Regions from separate parts of the Homo sapiens genome. Here regions 2 and 3 are each reported to be linked to region 1. Evidence: microRNA targets listed by miRTarBase, many of them from high-throughput screens and not tested one by one. Region 1 holds a microRNA gene; each other region holds the end of a gene's coding sequence.
What was found. Region 1 holds the annotated microRNA hsa-miR-3135b (GGCUGGAGCGAGUGCAGUGGUG, at 3,675-3,696, opposite strand). A microRNA usually pairs through its seed, bases 2 to 8, with sites in the 3' UTR of a target mRNA and lowers its output. Matches are read on the target gene's strand: a 7mer-m8 pairs with bases 2 to 8, a 7mer-A1 pairs with bases 2 to 7 and ends in A, and an 8mer does both.

Region 2: miRTarBase lists SMCR8 as a target of hsa-miR-3135b. Seed matches in the 3' UTR shown: 7mer-m8 at 2,109-2,115, 7mer-m8 at 2,805-2,811 and 7mer-m8 at 5,456-5,462.
Region 3: miRTarBase lists INO80 as a target of hsa-miR-3135b. Seed matches in the 3' UTR shown: 7mer-A1 at 5,994-6,000.

Annotation. Positions count from the first base shown.
Region 1 is chr6:32,746,278-32,753,472 of GRCh38, forward strand. It overlaps MIR3135B (microRNA 3135b), which reads right to left and starts at 3,702; the gene lies at 3,635-3,702. It overlaps HLA-DQA2 (major histocompatibility complex, class II, DQ alpha 2), which reads left to right. Exons shown (of 5, transcript NM_020056.5): 4 at 1-137; 5 at 305-921. The coding sequence ends at 117.
Region 2 is chr17:18,321,935-18,329,129 of GRCh38, forward strand. It overlaps SMCR8 (SMCR8-C9orf72 complex subunit), which reads left to right. Exons shown (of 2, transcript NM_144775.3): 2 at 683-6,122. The coding sequence ends at 1,136. SHMT1 (serine hydroxymethyltransferase 1) reads right to left here. Exons shown (of 12, transcript NM_004169.5): 12 at 5,939-6,985. The coding sequence ends at 6,816. Among named protein-coding and RNA genes, the nearest start is that of SMCR8, 10 kb to the left of the region's middle. RefSeq lists enhancers at 259-760, 761-1,260 and a silencer at 3,790-3,899.
Region 3 is chr15:40,974,106-40,981,300 of GRCh38, forward strand. It overlaps INO80 (INO80 complex ATPase subunit), which reads right to left. Exons shown (of 36, transcript NM_017553.3): 36 at 4,775-6,335. The coding sequence ends at 6,118. LOC105370789 (a long non-coding RNA gene) reads left to right here. Exons shown (of 4, transcript XR_007064601.1): 4 at 793-856. It overlaps LOC124903476 (a long non-coding RNA gene), which reads left to right and starts at 6,272. Exons shown (of 3, transcript XR_007064602.1): 1 at 6,272-6,361. RefSeq lists an enhancer at 1,784-2,983.

The DNA of each region.
Region 1 (7,195 bases):
ACTTTGGTCTGCGCCCTGGGGTTGTCTGTGGGCCTCATGGGCATTGTGGTGGGCACTGTCTTCATCATCCAAGGCCTGCGTTCAGTTGGTGCTTCCAGACACCAAGGGCTCTTATGAATCCCATCCTGAAAAGGAAGGTAAGATTGAGATTTGTTGGAGCTGAAACCTCAGTATGAGAGGGAGGAAAGTGGGAGGGGGTTGTGGACATGAATGTGGTTGAAAGTTGTAGGCGAATTGGGAAGTGGCATGATGATCACACAGGAGGCCCCTCAGACCCATCGATCTCATGTCTGTCCTGTTGCAGGTGCATCACCATCTACAGGAGAAGAAGAATGGACTTGCTAAATGACCTAGCACTATTCTCTGGCCTGATTTATCATATCCCTTTTCTCCTCCAAATGTTTCTTCTCTCACCTCTTCTCTGGGACTTAAGGTGCTATATTCCCTCAGAGCTCACAAATGCCTTTCAATTCTTTCCCTGACCTCCTTTCCTGAATTTTTTTATTTTCTCAAATGTTACCTACTAAGGGATGCCTGGGTAAGCCACTCAGCTACCTAATTCCTCAATGACCTTTATCTAAAATCTCCATGGAAGCAATAAATTCCCTTTTGATGCCTCTATTGAATTTTTCCCATCTTTCATCTCAGGGCTGACTGAGAGCATAACTTAGAATGGGCGACTCTTATGTTTTAGGCCAATTTCATATCATTCCCCAGATCATATTTCAAGTCCAGTAACACAGGAGCAACCAAGTACAGTGTATCCTGATAATTTGTTGATTTCTTAACTGGTGTTAATATTTCTTTCTTCCTTTTGTTCCTACCCTTGGCCACTGCCAGCCACCCCTCAATTCAGGTACCAACGAACCCTCTGCCCTTGGCTCAGAATGGTTATAGCAGAAATACAAAAAAAAAAAAAAAGTCTGTACTAATTTCAATATGGCTCTTAAAAGGAATGACAGAGAAATAGGATACAAGAATTTTGAATCTCAAAAGTTATCAAAAGTAAAAAATTTTGTTACCAAAAGTCAAACTGCATTCTCAAAACTTTAAATTTGTGAAGAATGACAACAGTAGAAGCTTTCCTCTCCCCTTCTCACCTTGAGGAGATAAAAATTCTCTAGGCAGGAAAAGAAATGGAAGCCAGTTAGAAAAACATTGAAATAAGGCCAGGCACGGTGGCTCACACCTATAATCCCAACACTTTGGGAGGCCAAAGTGGGCAGATCACTTGTGGTCAGGACTTCGAGACCAGCCTGGCCAACGTGGTTACACCCTGTCTCTACTAAAAATACAAAAATTAGCTGGGCATGGTGCTGGGCACCTGTAATCCCAGCTACTCAGGAGGCTGAAGCAGGAAAATCGCTTGAACCTGGGAGGTGGAGGTTGCAATAAGATTGTGCCACTGCACTCCAGCCTGGGCAACAGAATGAAACTCCATCTCAAAAATAAATAAATACATATAAATAAATTTTTTAAAAAAGAAAAATATTAAAATAAGGCAATAATATAAGGGGGTATCTGAAAAGGAACAAATGCTTGTTCCTTACTTAGGGTTAGTGACAATGGAAAACAGATAGAAGTAGAAGCTACAGACCCATTTAGGGGCCCCAGCCCCCTGCTCCTCCCCCTTCCTGGCTAAGGAAAGCATGAGCCTATGAGAGAGAAATCCTAGGAAGAACAAGACAGTTGAGACAATGTAGCAGCAGTAGTGGGTGCTGTGTCCTACACTGGATTCGTGGTCTCCTAATAGAAAATCTCTCAGAGGAAATGGGTCCACAGGGACCTGAGAGCTCTAAACAGCTATGAAATCTGCCAGGATATTTCTGTCCATGCTATCTGCATCAGTGAGTTTAAAATGTAATAGGAGAAAAAAAAGAGACAAAACATTAACATAATAATTGATACAGCATAGTTTTGTACAAAGAAACCTAAATCCAAATACTTGACTCAGTATTTTGAAGCTAGTATTTTAAACTTTACTGGGTAAAGTATCTGATTGACATTTCTGAACCTTATTTTTCTCATCCACAATGTGGGAGTGATAATATTTTCCTTGCAGAGTTATTGACAGAATTTGAATAATCTTGGTATATAGACAGTGCCTTACACGTAGTATATAAATATATAAGAAAACACTGCAGTTATGTTTATAATGGATTTATTAAAAAGAATGGATCATATTATATGAAAAGTACATTTGTTTTCCTTAGCCCTTTAGTGATTTAGGAGATTCAAGCGTAGACGTAAAAGTGAGTTTCTTTTCATATGTTAACTGGAGGATTTTTTTCTTTCTTGAGAGGCTGAGATTGGGTTGCTAAGAGAACTCTTAGGACAAGAAGTTGTAATATTTGACTTCGGTTTTTAACTCTCTAAGGGGTATATTCCCTCCTTATGTCCCATAAATTTTAAGTCAAGGTGAATTATATGCAACAGCAGTTTATCCATATTTACTTTGGGGAGGAGGTGGGGAGACTCCGGGAGAAAATAATTATAAATGCAGACTGGGAATTAGTAAGTGCAGGGAATCTGAACCAGTGGTGATCATGAAAACGTCCATCACAGAACACAGAGGATTTTTAGGGCAATGAAACTACTCTATTTGATACCACAATGGTGAATAAATATCATTATGCGCTTGCCCAAATCCATAGAATGTACAACACCAAGAATGAACCTTAATATAAACTATGGACTTTGGGTGATAATGATGTGTCAGTGTAAGTTCATAAGTTGTAGCAAATGTACCTCTGTCATGAAGGATGTTACTAGTGGGGGAGGCTATGCATGTGTGGGAACAGAGAGCATATGGGATACATCTATCTGTACTCTACAATTTTTCTGGGAACCTAAAACTTCTCTAAAATAAACTCTATTAAAAAAAAAGAAAAGAAAAGGTCAACAATAATGATCCCAAATATATAAAATTAAAACTGTAGTATAAAAATGGTCACATGAAAATGCATGAATGTGCTAAGAACTTTTCTGCAATAGGATTTAAAATAAATTTTATATAAATTTCAATGATTCATGAGCCAAGAACCCAGCATTCTGGAGGTGTGTGCATTTGTGTGTGTGTGTGTGTGTGTGTGTGTGTGTGTGTGTGTGTAAGGCTTACATTGAATGGCATTATAACCAGAGTCATACAGAAATACACAAATGCTCCCCTATTTAGAATCCTTCCCCAAGAAATACTGAGGAAAGCAAATATAATGGTAGTTGGATTTTACTGAAAGAATGTATTCAAAAAGTATTTATATAATGTTAAAATAGCATAGCTAAAATTAGTTTTATAAAATAGAGCAAATATATCTTTTTATCAGCTAAAAGTTCAAAGTGAAATCATCATTATTATATTATTATATTATTATTATAAACAGTTATAAATCAGGCTGCATGATTTTAAATTAAATGATTCTTAAAAATTGTTATCTGAATTATTTCAGATTACATACATAAAGTATGACTTCATTAATAGGTAATATCACATTGTTTAAATTTTACAAAATTTCCAGTCACAATGGTTCATGCCTGTAATCTCAGCACAAGGTGAGGGTCCCTTAAAGCCCAGGAGATGGAGACCAGTCTGTAGTCCCAGCTAGTAGGGAGGCTGAGGCAGGAGGATTGCTGCTTGAGCCCAGGAGTTCGAGGCTGCAGTGAGCTAGGACTGACTGCACCACTGCACTCGCTCCAGCCTGGGCAACACAGCGAGACCCCGTCTCTAAAAATAAATAAATAAATGAATAAATAAATAAAAATTACAAAACGTAAAAATCACGTAAAATATTTCAGGTTTGTACTTACCACATACAAACTAGAGATATGAAGAATTAAACATTACAAATAAAGCACTTCACACACAGTCTGGCCCATAGTAAGCAGTTTATAGAAGTTAACAAATTTGTGTTATTGTTATTTTCTGGAGTCCAAGACAAAATCCCATGATGAATGACACCACAAGGATGTAAGCAACAAAATTCAGAATATGAGAAGTTCTACTAGATTAAATAAAAAGATTTCTCCAGCAAACAATTTGCAAAAAAAGTTAAAAATAGAGAAAAGAAAAGCTATACACTTGAAAAAGACTGAAGAAATATAGTAACCAAACGCTGAGCTTTGTCTAGATTCATATTCAAACAAAACATCTGTTAAAAAATTTATATGAGGCAATCAGAAAAATTGACACTGAGTGTATTAAGGAATTATTTATCTCGTTTTAAATGTGTTAGTGGCATTGCTGTTATGTTTCTAAAAAGCCATTATATTTTAGATTTTCATAATAAAAATGTATAAATGAAATATGATACCTAAAAATATCTTCAAAATAATCCAGTATGTGCCTGTATGATAACTGGGTGGGTTTACAAAATTGCTCATGAATTGATTATTGTTAAAGCAAGGCTGTTGATACATGGAATTCTTCTCTGTACTATTGCACACAGTTGAAATTTTCTGTAATACAAAGGTTTTTTTTTTAAATGTATTCAGGAAAGTCCCATAAACATAGGCAGACAAGCATTCTGTTTGAAGTTATGTTAGTTTTTCAGTTTTTCTCATTTTTATCACATTTAGGAAACCCTGTCCAAGGCCTGCCCAAGACTGTAAGAACCTCTCAGGAATGCAACTATAAAGAATGTGTATGCAGGAACTAATAATAACAAAGGAAAGCAAAGTAATGCTTGCTTTATTATTGGCTGGACTAAGCCCCCAGACTTGTTTATATATTCACTAATTCATCAAAAATGCAAAAATGGTCATTGAGTACCAGTGCTACAATAAGTACTCATAGTTTGTTGAATGTTATTAAAATAATGTGAAAACAATTACATTCATTATCTTCATAGAACTTACACTCCAGTGGGAGGAAAATACATATATTACATAATTCCACAAACATAGTTACAAGGTCTGAAACATTTATAAAGAAAAAGAATGAGGTAAAATGAGAGAGTGTTGCACAGGGACCAGGTATGGTTTGGGGCAGTTTAGAAGTGGCTTGAAGAAATGTATCTTGAGATGAAATAAGGTGGTATACAGTAGGTAAAGGACAAGGTTGAAGAGGCCAGAGCAAATGTTTGAGAAACTCTTACAATATGAAAGAGAAGATGAGAATAAAATAACATGAAAATTATCACAGATTTAATAGAGAAAGTTCATGTAACAGCAAACAAGTTTAAAGTCATTCTAATTAGAATTCTTGATCTGTAAAAGTAATAATAGAATGCTAAAAACAATTGGAAAATTTAATAGAAAGATTGGAAAATTAAATCAAGAAAATCTCACAGTAATTTAAAAGGCAAAAAAAAAATGTAATATATGGTAGAAAAAATAAGATGGAGAACAGACCAAGGAAGTCAAACATCAAGTGACAAAGCTAGAGAGACCAACAGGGAAGATGAAGGGAGAAAATGATCAGAACAAATAATAAGGGAAAATGTTCCAGATATAAAGGATTTAATTCTTCCATGGAATAGTCTTGTCAGGTATTTAGCAAAATTAACAGACTCACTTCTAAATATCTCATTTTCAAAATTTCAGAACTTCAGGTGTTATAGAAAAGTCATAAAATATTCCAGTGGCGGAAACCAAAATGAAACAAACTGACAACAAAAAAAATACTTCTATTATTAAGATAATGAGAAAGTCCTTGAAGTTCTAAAGGAAAATTATTTTTTATTAATAAATGTAGATCTTTTCAAAGTCACAATCAGGCATGGAGAAAGAATAAAAATACCTGTGAATGTGAAAGAACATAAAATTTACCTACCACGCAGAGTTTTACTAGAAATTGACTAAGGATATGACCAATTGAGATTGTTAATCAGGATATAGGAAGGTAAGGAATCCAGGAAACTGGGTCTAACCCAGGATCTCACTGAAAACGGATCCTACTACAGCAGTTTCTTGGCAAGCAAAGAATACCTGACTACATAAGTGATATTTAGAAAGTGATAAACTTTTTTTTTTCAAATTTAGAATTAATCTGTGAGCAAAGCCCAAGGAATCTTATTGCTACAGCAGAATGTCAATATTTTCAGCTTTGACAATATTGGGGGGAAAAAAAAGATGTAGATACTTCATTATGGCAACTGGAAGTGTAAAGGAGAGGGGAAAGGGAGGGTGAAAATGCCAATAACTTCATCTTCCAAGAAGGAGGGGAAGAGGCATTGCCCATACTTACAGAAGTCACAAAGATCAATATATTTAAATTACAATCACAACTGGAAAAAGTATGTAAAATGACTCATGAATTAGAGCAAGGTTTTAGAAATTGGACTATTATTTCAGTTACAAAAAAAATGGACTGTTATTCTTCGGCCTAAGCTATTCAGAAGCTGCAAGAGCCCCTCAGAGTCGGCCCAAATTAGAGCAGGTTGTATACTCCTATACTGACCAATCATTATAGGCGAGTTCCTCCTGGGAAGTGGATCAAAATCCGATGAGGCAGCTTTCATCACCTAAGGCAATTCCGGGGCGTGACTGAAAGCTGAGGGCAGTCAGCCAGCAACATTCCCAGCAATGACAGAATAAATCGTTCAGTCTCAAAGGGAGGAGTTTAGGTACAGTGGAACAGCACTGACGGCAGAAACACTGTTCTAGTTCCTGGGAGTACATATACATTCATGTGGAAGAAAACAAACAGATAAAATTCAGCATCTATTTAAAAATTAAAAATAAAACTACCACATGATCCAGCAGTTCCACTTCTGGGTACATATGCAAAGAAAATGAAATCTGTATCAAAGAGATATCTGCACTCCCGTGTTTATTGCAGCACTATTCACAATGGCCAAGAGATGGAATCAACCTAACTATCCATCAGCAGATGAATGGATAAAAAAAATGTGGTGCATATACACAATGGAATACTATTCAGCCGTATAAAAGAAGGAAATCTTGTCATTTATAGCATGGACGAACCCATTGGACAGTATGCTAAGTGAAATAAGCCAGGCACAGAAAGACAAATACGACATGACCTAACTTATATGCAGAATCTTAAAAAGTCAAAGTCATGGAGGGGGTGGGGTGTGGGGAGAGGGAGAAAAAGGAATGAGATGTTGGTCAAAAGGTATAAGTTTCAGTTAGAGAGGAGGAATAAGTACTGAAGATCAATTGTGCAGCATGGTGACTAGTTAACAATATCATACAGTTGTCCCTTGGCATCCATGAGGGATTGGTTCTAGGACCCTTC
Region 2 (7,195 bases), not on the chromosome of region 1:
AGGGAAGGCTGAATATGCTTTAAATTAAGCTAAGTACAAGAGAGAGAGGTTATTTCAGGCAGAAAGAAGAGGTTTTTTTGTTTGTTTTGTTTTTTAAGACAGAGTCTCGCTCTGTTGCCCAGGCTAGAGTGCAGTGGCACGATTTTGGCTCACTGCAAGCTCTGCCTCCTGGGTTCACAGCATTCTCCTGCCTCAGCCGCCCAAGTAGCTGGGACTACAGGCACCTGCCACCACACCCGGCTAATTTTTTGTATTTTTAGTAGAGACAGGGTTTCACCGTGTTAGCCAGGATGGTCTCGATCTCCTGACCTCACGATGCGCCTGCCTCGGCCTCCCAAAGTGCTGGGATTACAGGTGTGAGCCATTGCACCTGGCCTGAACAAAGAGGTTTGTAATTCTAAGGCCCCACTGAAAGCTTGCCATGGCTCCAAAAAAGAGTCCATTCAGCAGGAATCGGACCACAAAGGGCTTTGTGGGCCACCCAGCGTGTTTTTGACCTTGGTCATAAGAGTGGTGAGGAGCCCTTTGAAGATTACAATGATCAGATTTGTCTTCCAGGAAGAGCCAGTGCATGCTGGCTAGGTGGATGCTGGCCTGGGGACAGGAGGCCTCACCTCCCAAGCTTCTGCCTCCACTTTCCCGGCCCTTGCCCTTCCTCCTGACCTTGGCCTGTCTGTTTCAGAGTGGCCTCCCCTGCCGGTGCCGGTACCCTCCATGCCCTGAGCCGCTACAGCCGCTACACGAGCATCCTGGACCTTGACAACAAAACCCTGCGCTGCCCCCTTTACAGAGGCACCCTGGTGCCCCGCCTGGCAGACCACCGCACACAGATCAAGCGGGGCAGCACCTACTACCTGCATGTCCAGAGCATGCTCACCCAGCTCTGCTCCAAGGCCTTCCTCTACACCTTCTGCCACCACCTGCACCTGCCTACCCACGACAAGGAGACAGAGGAGCTGGTAGCCAGCCGCCAGATGAGCTTCCTAAAGCTGACCCTGGGTCTGGTGAATGAGGATGTTAGGGTGGTCCAGTACCTGGCTGAGCTGCTGAAGCTGCACTACATGCAGGAATCTCCAGGGACCAGCCACCCCATGCTCAGGTTTGACTATGTCCCCAGCTTTTTGTATAAAATCTGAGGTCGGTCCCAGACACTGTGACCAAGACCTGTGACTCAGGGTATGGGGAGGGGAGGGGTTGGCATGACCAAACAGTTGCCTGAGCTGGACTGTTTAAGTTTCTGGTGTCTGGCAGCATGGTTCCCACGTGGCTCCTAGTAGTTTTTAAGTTGGACATGGGCAGAAGTGGAGCCTGGCTCCCTCTAAAGGCGTCTGGAGGGATGGTGACAGCTACATTTGGCTCCCTGGTGAAGAGTGGCCCCTGGATATGGAGGGGGCCTTGGTTTTCTGAGGACTGGCAGCCAGGGCAGAAGGGAAGCCACCAGTCCCTTGGTGGGGCAGGGTGAGGGCAGGAAGGCCAAAGCCTGATGGGAGGAGCACACTGGCTGTATTCAGCATTGCCGGACACTTGAGTGGCAAAATGAACGAGGGTGACAGCCAGGTAACTGTTGTGGTTTGGTGGAAAACAGGAGGGCAGAACACCCATCGCCTCCTTCAGACCCAGATGCAGCCCTTTATTTGCTTCCTGGAGCCCACTGTCCTAGGGGAGGCCCTGGACCAGCCAGTGGGGGTGAGAAAGGCTGCCACCCTCTGGGTCGTGGGAAACATGCGACCTTGGCCTCAGGGCCACAGAGCGTGAGCAGCACCCTGTCCGCTGTCCTCGCCACCTTTACCTGGGAGAGAAGTGCCTGTGAGCGGGCCTTGGGACTCACTCCCCATACTCTTTCACCAGGAACGAGCAGAGTGTTCACTAGTCCTAGTGTGAAGCGGGCACAAGTGACCAAAGCCAATGGTGAGGACCACCTTGGGGGCTGGAGAGCACAGCAGGCAGAGCAGGGCTGAGGCGCCATGAGGCCATCACCACCATGCAAGGGAGGAGCAGCCAGCAGCTCTCCTGGGTGGCCCACTGGCTCCTGCCGGCCAGAGCGCATGAGCACTGACCTTCCTCGTGGGGAAGGTCTGCAGACCCGTGTGAACATGGCAGAGGCCACACTCCAGCTCCCACCCACATAAACCTTTGCAACCACTTCACTACCTCTCACTGGGTCTCGTGGGCTTGGGACAGCAACGGTTCTGTTTAGTCAGCTGGTGCAGGTGGTTGGCCCAGCCGATGAGAACTCAAATAGCACGGATTTCCTGGATGAGCTACCACGTGGCGCTCTTCAGGTTCTGCCTCTGGGAGGCTGTGTGCACCTCAGTCACCACAGCTCACGGCCGTCCCCAGTTGAGTCCCCCTTCTGAGGACAAGTTTGAAACTGGGAAGGAGACACCCCCTGGTTCCGCCAGCACCTATCCCACTGATAGTGATCCCCTGGCCTCCCCGAGCCTCCTTAGGCAATGGCCACTGGTTTGTAGACAGAGAGTTTCTTGCAGCCTTGAAAATTTTATTCCCTAAGTGGGGACAGCTCTGGTATTACTGCTTCTTTAATTTGTTCCACAAAAATTATGCTGAAATGGACCTGAATCAGCCCTGGGTGTGCTTCTGTTGGCGCCTGCTGCTGAGGCCCGGCCTGCCCATCGGCCTGTAGTACGCCATCGAGGTCATCATGGAGCCAGCCAGCTTCTCTTCTCATCAAGGAGGCAGAGACCCCTGGTGGAAGCCAAGAGTGACCGAAGAGGGCTTGCATCACGTCACTCCAGTGGTTCCCTCCTTGTCCAAGTCCTCGTTTTAAGGGCATGGCCCGTTGGCTCCAGCCGTTGGCTTCTGTTCAGGGTCCTTGCTCCCATCAGAGGTGTTTGATTTTGCTCCTGGGGCTGCGATGGAGAACCTTTTGTGGCAGATGGTGCTGCCTACATCTCATTGGTTCTCTGTACCTGTGCCCGTTGCGCATGTTCACAGACAGGAGAGTCGCCAGCAATACCTTGGCAGCCTTTAAATGTGAAACGTCTGTTACTTGCGCTGGAGGCAGAGGCTGTGCAGGGAGCCTGCTTCTAATCGTGGGCTCCCTTATCTGTTACGGTTCCCTCCCCTCCTGTTCTAGATGCTGATTCGTTTTCTCACTGGCTGGTTAATTGCTGTCTACTTAGGCCTCCAAGGCCATAACTGTGCAACATTTTATCTGAGAAGGAAGGAAGGTCAGAAAGTGATCACTGGCACCACCACTGTGGCATTCCTGTCACACCAACACAGAAATTCACAGCTCATACTGTTCTCACCTGGGAAACTTGGGAAGGGCTGATGAGTTTGGGGCAGATCCTGAATTGCAGCCACACTTGGCCTTCTAGAAGCTGAAGTTGTGCCCTCAAGTGGTCCTAAGTAGAAGTCCACTTGAGGTATTTGCTGGCACACACCCTCAAGGGTGGTTCAGAAGGTCCTGAAACCTAAGGCAAAAGGCTGCTGGGGCATGAACAGAACAGACCGTCTCAGGGGCAGCCATGTAAGTGGCAAGCAGGGCTGGTCTCCCTCAAGGTGGTTCTTCATTAAGTAAAGATGGCTTCGTGACTAGTGTTTAGCTCCCAGATTTATATTTGGGTTAAAAACTAACTTTTCAATGTGGCAGTTTCAAAGGATTACTTGATGCAAAGTATGTTTCCTTTCAAAGGGATCTTGACGTGGTACCAGGACTGAGTCATGATTTGGGCAGAGGCAGTTAACACTGGGAAGCCCTGCCCCTCCCTATGCCCCCTTCACTCCGGGGAACTGAAACCTACTCTGAGTCTCACATCTCTAAACCTCAGTGCTGAGACCTATGCAGTGGGACTAATCTCATCAAGAATTTTCAGTTGAGGCCGGGCGCAGTGGCTCACGCCTGTAATCCCAACACTTTGGGAGGCCGAGGTGGGCGGATCACCTGAGGTCAGGAGTTGGAGACCAGCCTGGCCAACATGGTGAAACCCCATCTCTACTAAAAATACAAAGAAAGTTAGCCAGGTCTGGTGGTGCGTGCCTGTAATCCCACTTACTCGGGAGGCTGAGGCAGGAGAATCACTTGAACCCAGGAGGCAGAGGTTACAGTGAGCCGAGATCGCGCCACTGCACTCCACCCTGGGCAACAAGAGCGAAAACTGTCTCAAAAAAAAAAAATTTTTCATTTGAGGTATTCTTCCAGTAGAAGGTTAGTAAGTTTTTAATGAAACCATTAAAAATTACACTTCCCAGAAAATAGATGACATCAGTGCCCCTTGCTACTTTCTCAGTCCTCACTATTGCTTTGAGGGCCCAGGTACTGAAACTGGTTGTCTTGAGTTTTGTGTCAGCTTTTTCTCCAGTCCATTATCCCCCTCCCTTGCTTCTGAAGCAGTCTAGGTTAAACTAGCCAGGCAGGTAGTTGTGGACTGGTGATTTTCAAAAGCCCCACTTTAGAGATCAGGCCACAGCTTTTTATATCGCACAGGACACATCAGCCTGAGCTGCTGCCTCATGCCTGTTTCCCCAGGAACCTCACTCCTTTGGTAGAACCTTGGGATTTTAGAAATTGTGGCTTTTCCATAACTCATTTACTCCAACAGTTGAAGTTACACACATTGCTCCCAAATTTGGAAATAGACCACAGTACCTTACCTTTCATTCCCCATCTGGCCTTTACCTTCTTTGCTTCAGTGGTTGAAAACAGTTGCCATATTCAAAGTATAGTAGATTTCAACCTCACACAAATGACAAGTCCCATTTTACAATCCTAGGAAGGCCCACCAATTTCATTTCACGCGCCAGGGCGGCTGCAGTTGGAGGCCGAGGGCAGCCCTCTGCTCACTGAATGTCTTGCATGTGCTGACTGCTGCCCGCAGTGCTGAACATGCCCCACCGCCCAGGCCCAGCACTGCTTGTTGGGTCAGCATCTAGTGCTGCTGTCACATCTTTGTCTGCACAGCCAGTAGGATTGCCTCAGCCAGGGGGTTTATCAGAAGGTGTGCAAGGCCTTTGGGGGAACTGAGCCCCTATAGTGGGCAGTCTCCTTTACCTTCCCACCTCCCTGAAAAGCACAGAAGACAGTGCCTTGGTTTGTGTTTTGAAGCAAACAAGTCAGCTTTCTGGCTTTGCCCCAAAACTGTGATGGAACATAATAAAACTGGAGATATGGTTTTTAACACTGCAAAAAGGAAAAAGCATCAAGTTTCTACTTCTGGCTGGAAAGCAAAACCAATCTCAGCTGACAAGGCTGGGCAAACTAAGTTTTCCTGAGCCCATTTTCCTTTGAGCCCTGACCTAGCCTGGCCTTACCTCATTAAGGTTTGGTTAAAGCAGTGGAAAGGAGGAGGAGGCAGGGGTGGATGGGGGTGTGGGGAGGGGATGAGCACTCTGCAGCCGATTAATCTGTTGGTAGGGGCCCAGCTTCTTGGGAGTGCTTATTCAGCCCAAGAGTGGAGGCTGTTTACAGCGAGCCCTGGAGATGGCAGCTTGTCTCCAGCTGGGGAGGGGTCAGGCCCCTAAATTGAAGACCACTTTGGTAGCAGAACTGTAGGGACTGGTGAGTCAACTCACAGATTCTGCAGCAGCTGCTCCACCCACAATAAAGCAAACGCCGACAGGCTAGACCCCAGATTGCAGGGGCTGCCACCTACAAGGTGGGACCACAGGCTGCCTCACCGGGATTGTCTGCCACTAAATAGCTGGAGTCACAGATTGAGATAAATGCCACCTTCAAGGTTGCAGTGAAAAGCATAATCCTATGTGATGAATTTATATGTGTTATTTTTTAAAAAGCTATTTTATTACTGCATGTTCCCGTCCCGTCTTGTGAATGTGAGTCCCCGCCACCACGTGAGGTGCAGTCGTTGCAGCGGCTGGTGCAGGAGTGCAGCTGGCGCGTGTGTGATAGCATCTCGTAGGTGTTGCTGCACAAGAGTTAACCAGAGTCAATGCCAAACACATAGTATGAGAAGTGTACTTTTTAAGAAATTAATTTATTTGAGTTCAAATATTTTTGAAATATAAAAATTGGTTGTATTTTTTAAAGCTATAATTCTTGTAGACATTCTGTGGTTAAAAATTTGATTGTGCTTATTAAAAATGGTCATCTATGTTTTGCACTTCAGCTACGTGAAAATAAAATTTCTTTGGGAAGGTGACATTTGGCTTCCTGATTACGGGAGGGAGTTGGTTATCTCAGGTGGAGCAGGAAAGCCTGGTTGATTCTCACACCAGGATGGGACTGGGACTTCCCAGGATGGAGGGAGGAGGCCATTTCTACACCATACTTTGAGCTACTGACAGCAAAACCCTCCCACCATACTGGGTGCATCTTGTTTACTCTTGACTAACATACACTTCTGATTTACAGCAGAAGCCTCAGAAGCTAATTCAGTTCTCCTTTGGCATGCCACTGGATAACAAGATAGTGAGGGGGCAGTGTGTACAAGCTGTGGACATGGGCATTTCCTCTCTGTTGCAGCAAGGCGGAGGAAAGCCCAGGGAGAGTAAAACGCTACAATCTTTCTAACAGCTTTGCCCTACACCACCATCTAAATGATTATGACCAAGTGGCGACATAGTATTTTATTTTCCTAGAATTATGTCCAGCTGTGAGAAAGCCAGGTTCAAATTTAAATCCTTTAATAACCTGTCCCAGAATTACTAACAATGAGACTTAAACAAATTTTGATTTGTGAAGAAAACATGAAAAAAGTCCAAAAGAAACCCCCTCAAAGGGCCCGAGTGTCAACAGTTCCCCTTTGGAGCAGCTCATCCATCTCTCAGGTGGGGGTCCTCCGGCAGGCAGCTTCCTCTGTGGCGCCAGGTGGGTCCAGAGTGGGCCCGCTCCTTTAGAAGTCAGGCAGGCCAGGCAGAGGGAAGAGAGAGGCGAAGCTCTCAACCTCCTCCCGGAGAGCCTGCACGGCCGCCTGGTACTTATCCCCTGCCAGTCTCTCCTTGAACTCTTTCAGGGTGGCTCTGACACCAGTGTCGCTCTGGATCTGCAGGGTCAGCTCTATCCCTGTGCCACAAGACACAAATGAGTCACCCCACACTACACACCAAAGGGGGTACAATGGCTGGGGGCCGAGGCACAAATGTCAGAATGTCCCCCAGCTGGGGAGTGTGGCAGGGCACAAGGTCTCCATGCTTACCTCAATTACTCTGAGATGCACCCACCCTTGGACAGATGTCCTGGGCAGCCCAAATTTATAACCCTCTCAGACAAGGT
Region 3 (7,195 bases), not on the chromosome of region 1:
TAGAACATTTCATTTTCTTTTTTTTTTTTTTGAGATGGAGTCTTGCTCTGTTGCCCAGGCTGGAGTACAGTGGCACAATCTTGGCTCACTGCAACTTCCGCTTTCTGCATTCAACTGATTCTCCTGCCTCAGCCTCCTGAGTAGGTGGGATTACAGGTGCCCGCCACCATGCCCATCTAATTTTTGTATTTTTAGTAGAGATGGGGTTTCACCATGTTGGCAAGGCTGGTCTCGAACTCCTGACCTCAAGTGATCCGCCTGCCTCAGCCTCCCAAAGTGCTGGGATTACAGGTGTGAGCCACTGTGTCCGGCCCCATAGGACATTTCTATAAACCAGTAATGACCATGCTGATGAGGACAAAAGCATCAAAACAGCAGAGAAACAAGATGGAAAGAATGTGGGACCTTCAATGTTCGTGTAGAGCAGATCCAAATTCAAACTCTTACATGTGAGAGATAAGAATTTATATCTTATTTAAGCCATTAAATAAGATATTTAAGCATTTTGGGGTCTGTTACAGCATCATGTGTTACCCTAACCAATATGAACAATGATATTAATTGGTCAGAGGGCTTATGGCCCAACCAGTGGACAGACACTGCAATTACTCCCTAGGGATGACCAGCCTAGTCCAAATTACTCCCTAGGGATGACCAGCCTAGTCCAATAAAGATGAGGCATGGGTAGTGGAGATGAAGTGCAAAGACACTGGCTTTTGAGCTTGCCCATTTCATTTTCACTGCTCCTACTAAAATCCGGTGATGGACTATACTGACTTACTCTGCCTGCAGATGGAGTCCGAGAGGGAGCATGCACCAGTCTACTACCTAGACCCCTTGGCAGAACTTTTCCTAGATGTGCAAGGTGATCTATACTTTTTTTTTTTTTCAAAGAATGAAAAAAAGGAGTAAAATCAACAAACTTTATTGAACTGGTTCAAACCGGAACACCCTTATCTAGAACATGTTACTTTACTTAACCAGAACTGTGGTACTGCGGCCCAGCAGAGGGCCACAGGCATCCGTGGAAAGCATGCACTGAAGCTCAGTCACTTAATTCCTAGGACATCCTACAATCCTCCTCTGAAGTTCTTTTTGTTAGCTCAGAAGTTCTGAGTTAGTTAAATGATTTCCAAGCCCCCAACAATTTAGAAAAGGTACATTAGAAGAAGGGGTGTTAAGATCAGTGTTTGGGGGAAAAAAAGATTTTATTTTTATTTTTTTTGAGACGGAGTCTTGCTCTGTCGCCCAGGCTGGAGTGCAGTGGCGCAATCTCAGCTCACTGCAAGCTCTGCCTCCCGGGTTCATGCCATTCTCCTGCCTCAGCCTCCTGAGTAGCTGGGACTACAGGCGCCCACCACCACGCCCAGCTAATTTTTTGTATTTTTAGTAGAGACAGGGTTTTACCCTGTTAGCCAGGATGGTCTCAATCTCCTGACCTTGTGATCCACCCGCCCTGGCATCCCAAAGTGCTGGGATTACAGGCGTGAGCCACCGCGCCCAGCCCAGATTTTATTTTTTAAGAGGAGCAGCTATCTCATCATATAAATACAAAAACACTGAGGCAGCTGGCACTGGCACTGGTACTATTCAGAGCTTAAGAACTGTGGCTGGAACCCCAGCACTATGGTAGAGGCTGATCAGGGAGGATTGCTTGAACCTGGGAGGTCGAGGCTGCAGTGAGCTGTTATTGCACCATTGCACTCCAGCCTGGGTGACAGAGCAAAATCCTGTCTCACAGACAATTTGTGGCAGTGTAGCTGTTGGCATGATTTAATCCAGGGGAAACAGTAGTACGTCCCAGTGGGCCTGAGAGCACCAGATGCCCACATGACCCCAAGCCCTTAGGAAAGGTTAAGGTATGTTCGGTATGTTCTGTTTAGCCATGCAGTGACACAGTATCCTTAAAAGAGAGTTCTAACCAAGCCAAATTCTGGTGCTTAGAATACCGGGTTAAAATGTTAGCCCTCTGAAAGACTTAGCTATTCAGAAAAATTCTAGGTAAGAGTTTATGCTGCTCTTCCCAATTCCACCGGGCCGAAGGCAAACTAAGACTGCTGAAGCTGAACTGCACTGACAATCCATTGGACCTGAACTCTCCCCACCACTCTGCTCAGACATCCCCAGGTAACTGGCACCATCTCTTCAAGGGTGCAAGGCATGGAGCAGCATAGGTCTTCTGGGACCTCTCATCTGGGAAATGGGAGGGGAGCTCCTTTCTTCTCTGGCAGCCAGGAACAGCTTGGGGGGTGGGCCTCTAGTTCAGGGTGGGGTTTGTGGTGATGTGCTGGGGGGGTGGTAGGAGGGTGGAACATTCTGAGCTGAGGCCGGGCATTCTCTCCCAGAGCTGCTTTAGGGGGGCATCAGCTGAGCAAACTTAGAAAACTCCCCACCACCTCCAACTTTGAACCTCTGTGCCCCCTTCCTTCTTCCCCTGAGGCTGTTGCCAAGTCAGACCCAGAGGGGCCTCCCCAATCCTTGGGCCACATATTTATCTTTGAGATTTGTGTGCCAGAACAATGAAATCCCAAGTGGCAGGAGAGCAGAGGCCTTGTGGGCACTCACAGATGCACATTCCATATGCCTTTCTGGAAGAAAGAACTCAGCTCTCTAGGAAGGAGGTAAGAGTCCAGGAGCCTCTCCCTCAGGAATCCTTGTTTCTCACCAAAGGTGCCAGGAACTGTAGGCAGGGATTCTGTGAGGACTGTGAAGTATCTCAAGCTTTGTAATTCTCTGTATACAGTATTGTTTTTGCCTGGTGTCCTTGTTGTGATGAGCAAGAAAATCCTTAATTTAAAAAAAAGAAAAGCATGATGCTCACTTCTGGCAGCAGCTAGGAGAGAACCAGGAGTCCATCCCCCAGCAGCTTGCCACGGGGGTGGGGGTTGGGGGAGAAACTGGAGCGAGAGAGTGGGTGGTGGCAGTTTTGAAGAGGAAAGGGAAGCCAGCTAAGTCCCAGGACCTGAAGCAAGAAAGAAATGAGGGCGCAGGAAGAGGCCAGATAAGGGAGGCACCCAGCTTCCTCAGGGTCCTTTGATGAGGCAGTGGGCCGCCTTAGTACTTGGACACACAATTTCGTGACAACCGGACGTCTCTGCTTTCTCTAGAACACAACCTGCCTTCTCCCTACCCCACCATCTAAGTGGTCTGAATGTGCACCATGAGGCTGGCTGAACTGGGCACCCATGGTCAACACGCTGCCTCCCCAGTTGGGGGTTTCGCGACTCTCTGGTAGTCTCAGAGAAGCGTGGGAGAGCAGCCAAACGGTCTCCATGCCCCCTGAGAGGGGCTTAGGAATTAGTTGAGAAAGATGACTGATCCAGGAGTCTGGTGGTCACAATAAAAGGACACAGGCACAGGAAACACTGAGTCCAGGGGTCACAGACTCTTCATGACATATTGCATCTTGGTGGAGGCCACACAGGAGAGGGACAGTAGCAAATCTGAGGCCTTCTCTCATACCTAACATGCCCAACAGAGGTGCTACCCAGGAAGTGATGGAGAAAATGATGAACAGTTAGTTTAAAAATGAAAAAACAAAACAAAAATGGAGAAAACATATAAGGGATTGAATTTCTCTAGAAATGCTAGGATTTCATTTTCTGTCATCAGGTGTATTAAGCTGGGTAAGAGGAAAAATAAAGTATTTCCTGCACCGGGCTTCCTGGCTGGGGTGCGGGCATATAAGCAAAGAGCAGAGATTTTTCCTGCTTGGCAGGGCTGGAAGGCACCCTAGGGCCTTGTTATTCCAGGGGTAGTCCAAGGACTAGCAAGCAGCATGGCCATCACCTGGGATCTTCTCAAGAAACTCAGTCTCAAGCCTCAACCTAGACCTTCAGAAACAGAACTTGCATGTTATGATCTCAAGGTGATTTGTGTGCACATTAACACTGGAGAAGCGTTGCCTTAAGGGACAATTCAGGTTTCAAATTACTATCTTTTCTTATGAAAAATCTTTACATAGCATGTAAAGGCAGAGCTGCTTAGTTCTGATGTTGGTTTATTCTGTGTGAGGCCTTGGTCAAGTTCACCAGCAAGATAAACAAGATCCAGAGTATCTAGTAATGTACTTGATGTCAATGAAGAAAGGCTGATCCTTGTGACTGTGGTGGGCATCAGCTGCCCAGGAGCCAGCCCACCCTGACCAACAGCGTGCAGGGTGAGCAAGGCTAGGGAGGCCACACAGCCAGCATACTTGGGAACCACATGAGCCCTACCCAAAAGTGATACAAGAGCTTATCAGTGTTTCACCCAGTCAGAGAAACGCTGGCTGCCAGGCCAGGCTGGGAACTAGGGCTCTTTTCCCAACTATCACCAAGGTAAGTTTTCACAGCCTGGATGTCTCTGGCATCCTTAGGAATGTATTTCACCATTTTCTTTCATGATTCTTAAGAGTGCAGCTAACTTTGAGAACACTGCCACTATTAAGATGACCACTATGTAGCTCTGCTTAATGGCGCCTAGGCCAAGCCGCCCACACCTCAGTCCTGGGGTCTAAGTCCTGAGTCATAAAGAGCCCACCATGGAGACAAGGGCGTTGACCACTGCATGTCAGACAGTTGGTCAAGCTTCCTTTCTGATGGCCAGAGGCAAATTCATAAGCCCAATCAATTCTGCTACTAAGGAAACACCCACAGTCCACTCCTTGTCCCACCAACCCCTGTCCTCTCTGATCACAGGCGAGGGCTCTGCTTTCCCTGTATCCTGCCACATCCACCAAGGGCTCTAGTTTGCCTCCAAGGAGGGGCAGCTGCAAAGACCACAGACACCTCAATTTACATAAAATTATCTCACTCCATTTTATTTAAGATTTTTTTATCCAGTTAGTAAAAGGAAGATGTGTCTCTCTTTATACATATGTACAAGTTCAGTTATAAAAATAGCACATTCAAAGAGAAAAGGCTTGGCATTTTTCTGATTCCCTCTAAATAGCATCTGTACACAGGAATCTGGGTTTGAGCAGGGGAATCTTAATGATTTAAATTAAATGATTCCCCTATACCCCCTACTCCAAAAAAGTTTTAAAAATCAATCTATCGAAACTCAATTCCGCGATTTTCAGGTGTGCAAATCAGAGGCTTGCCCGCCCGGAGGTACCTGCTCCACCAGGGACATCAGGCAGGGACAGGCAGAAACACCTCCCATGCAAACACTGCCCCTCTGTCTCTACTGGAGGGCAGCAAGCTCAGGCTGGCCGGGCTGGGAGGGCCGGTGCCGAGCCTGCCCCCTCTCTCCGCCCTCTTCACCTCACTCCTGCTGTCCCTTCCTCTCTCAGTGCAATATAGACAGTGCATACAGCCAAGCAGGGGACTGAAGGGCATGAGCAGGGAGACTGTGCATTCAGGATGGGCAAAGGGGACTCTGCAAGAGGGGCAGTGAGGCTGTCCTGCTGATTGAGGTGGCTCCTGGTCTCTCTACTGGCTTCTGGGAGTCCCCTGGGTGGAAGGTGCTACGGTTGCTGGTAGGATCTGAAGGTTCTCTTGGTGTGAACCATGCAGGATGGGAGGAATTGCTGGGAACACAACTGCCTGTGGATAGACTTCCTCTAGCCTCTACCATGCTTAGCGGCCTCCACCATCTCTCGCAGTCACTGCTCTCTCCAATGATGACACTCTGGGGTTCAGAGACCTGGGGAGCTGCCTGAAGACTGTGGACAACAGGTATACAATCTCCCTTACTAGCCCTATGAGAAATCACACTCTTAAGAGAAATCTCTACCATGGAAGGCTCTTCACAGCACCTGCGGAGACTTTGCAAGGGACGTGTCAGAGCCGAAGAGTGGAATCGGGATGGAAACAGTATGCCTGAGCATCTAAAGGGGGTCTGTGTCAGGCTTGCCCCGTGAGAGGTTTAAGACTTGGCTATACAGTTCACTTGAGATGCAGTGGGGCTGATCCATGCCCTGTGGCCTTCCTCCTACAGGCACCCCAGATGCTCCTGATGAGACACAGATGATAAAAGTGCTCACACCATCCACCTGCCTGTCCTTCCCCTGCTGGACATTTCCACTTCTGACTCAGGATGCAAGATGCTGCACGGGGCAAGCCATCCAAAGACCACTGGCAGGTCAGGACTCTAGCCCTGGTTTGGTTGAAGGAAGTCGGAGGGCCCAGATGGTTACCGTCCTCCAGAGGGGTTGGTGCCTTTGCCCTGTTTCCGGACCAGAGAGTCTGGGGCTAGGCTGCTGGTCATGTGGAGGTTCTTGGGATTCCCAGGAACATTATTTCCCTTGCTCAAAGGGGAACTCAAAGGAGAAGAGGCGCTTGAAGGTCCAAAGTCAGCAAGGCCAGCAGGCCGAACAAGGGATGTCTGCAGAGGACTGCTGGCGGAGATTCCTGTGGGGACGGAGAGAGACAAGAACGTAAGCACCAGTCCCGCGTAAGCTTCCTTGGAGCCTGTGGCCTTGGTTACCAGAGTCTGAGCTGGAGGAGAAGTGGTGGGCAATTCCTCCCTGCCACTCCTTGCTAACAACTTCTTGGCATGTTTGCTTGCTCTTCCTGTCAACTGTCTTTTCAGTAAGAGGAATAGATTTTTAAGAGAAAATGATACCTACCCAACCCTCTCTATACTACTTCATCCACAGATGGTAAAATGTTCATCTTGACACTCTAGATAGAGCACACATTTTACAATCTGAGACACCAAAGTTACAGGATGAGAGCTGTAACTTACTAGGCACAAACAGGTTTTTCCTTTCTTCTTTCTTGGAACATCAAGTTTGATAAGATGTTTCCTTTTCAATTTCATGCTCCTGCTACTCTCCAGTAAGTCGGGCCAGAGGGTACAAGGCTGCCCACTCTCTATCCTGTGTCTATATTCATACAGTTCTCCTTGCGCTGGCAATGGCCACCCCTGCTCTCCAAGGCCTGTGTCACTTCAAGGGCACAGCTCAAATCCCCCATCTTGAGTGATGACTCCCTGGGCAACAGTGAACTTCCCTTTTTCCTACATAAGCCAAATCCACTTACATGTGATAACACATTGATTCTTCAATTGTTTCATATGTACTGGTTTTACTTTCCAAAAAAGAATTCTAAGTGCTTGATGGGCAGACATGTCTCTCTCCTCATCCACAGTGGAACCACGGGTACTCTCTGAACCACTCCTTTCCCTTGATTTCCATTTCCAGTTGCCAAGCACTGTTGGTTTTTCTTGTGCTGCTCTACCCCCTCTATCTCCCTCACCCTTTCTGCCC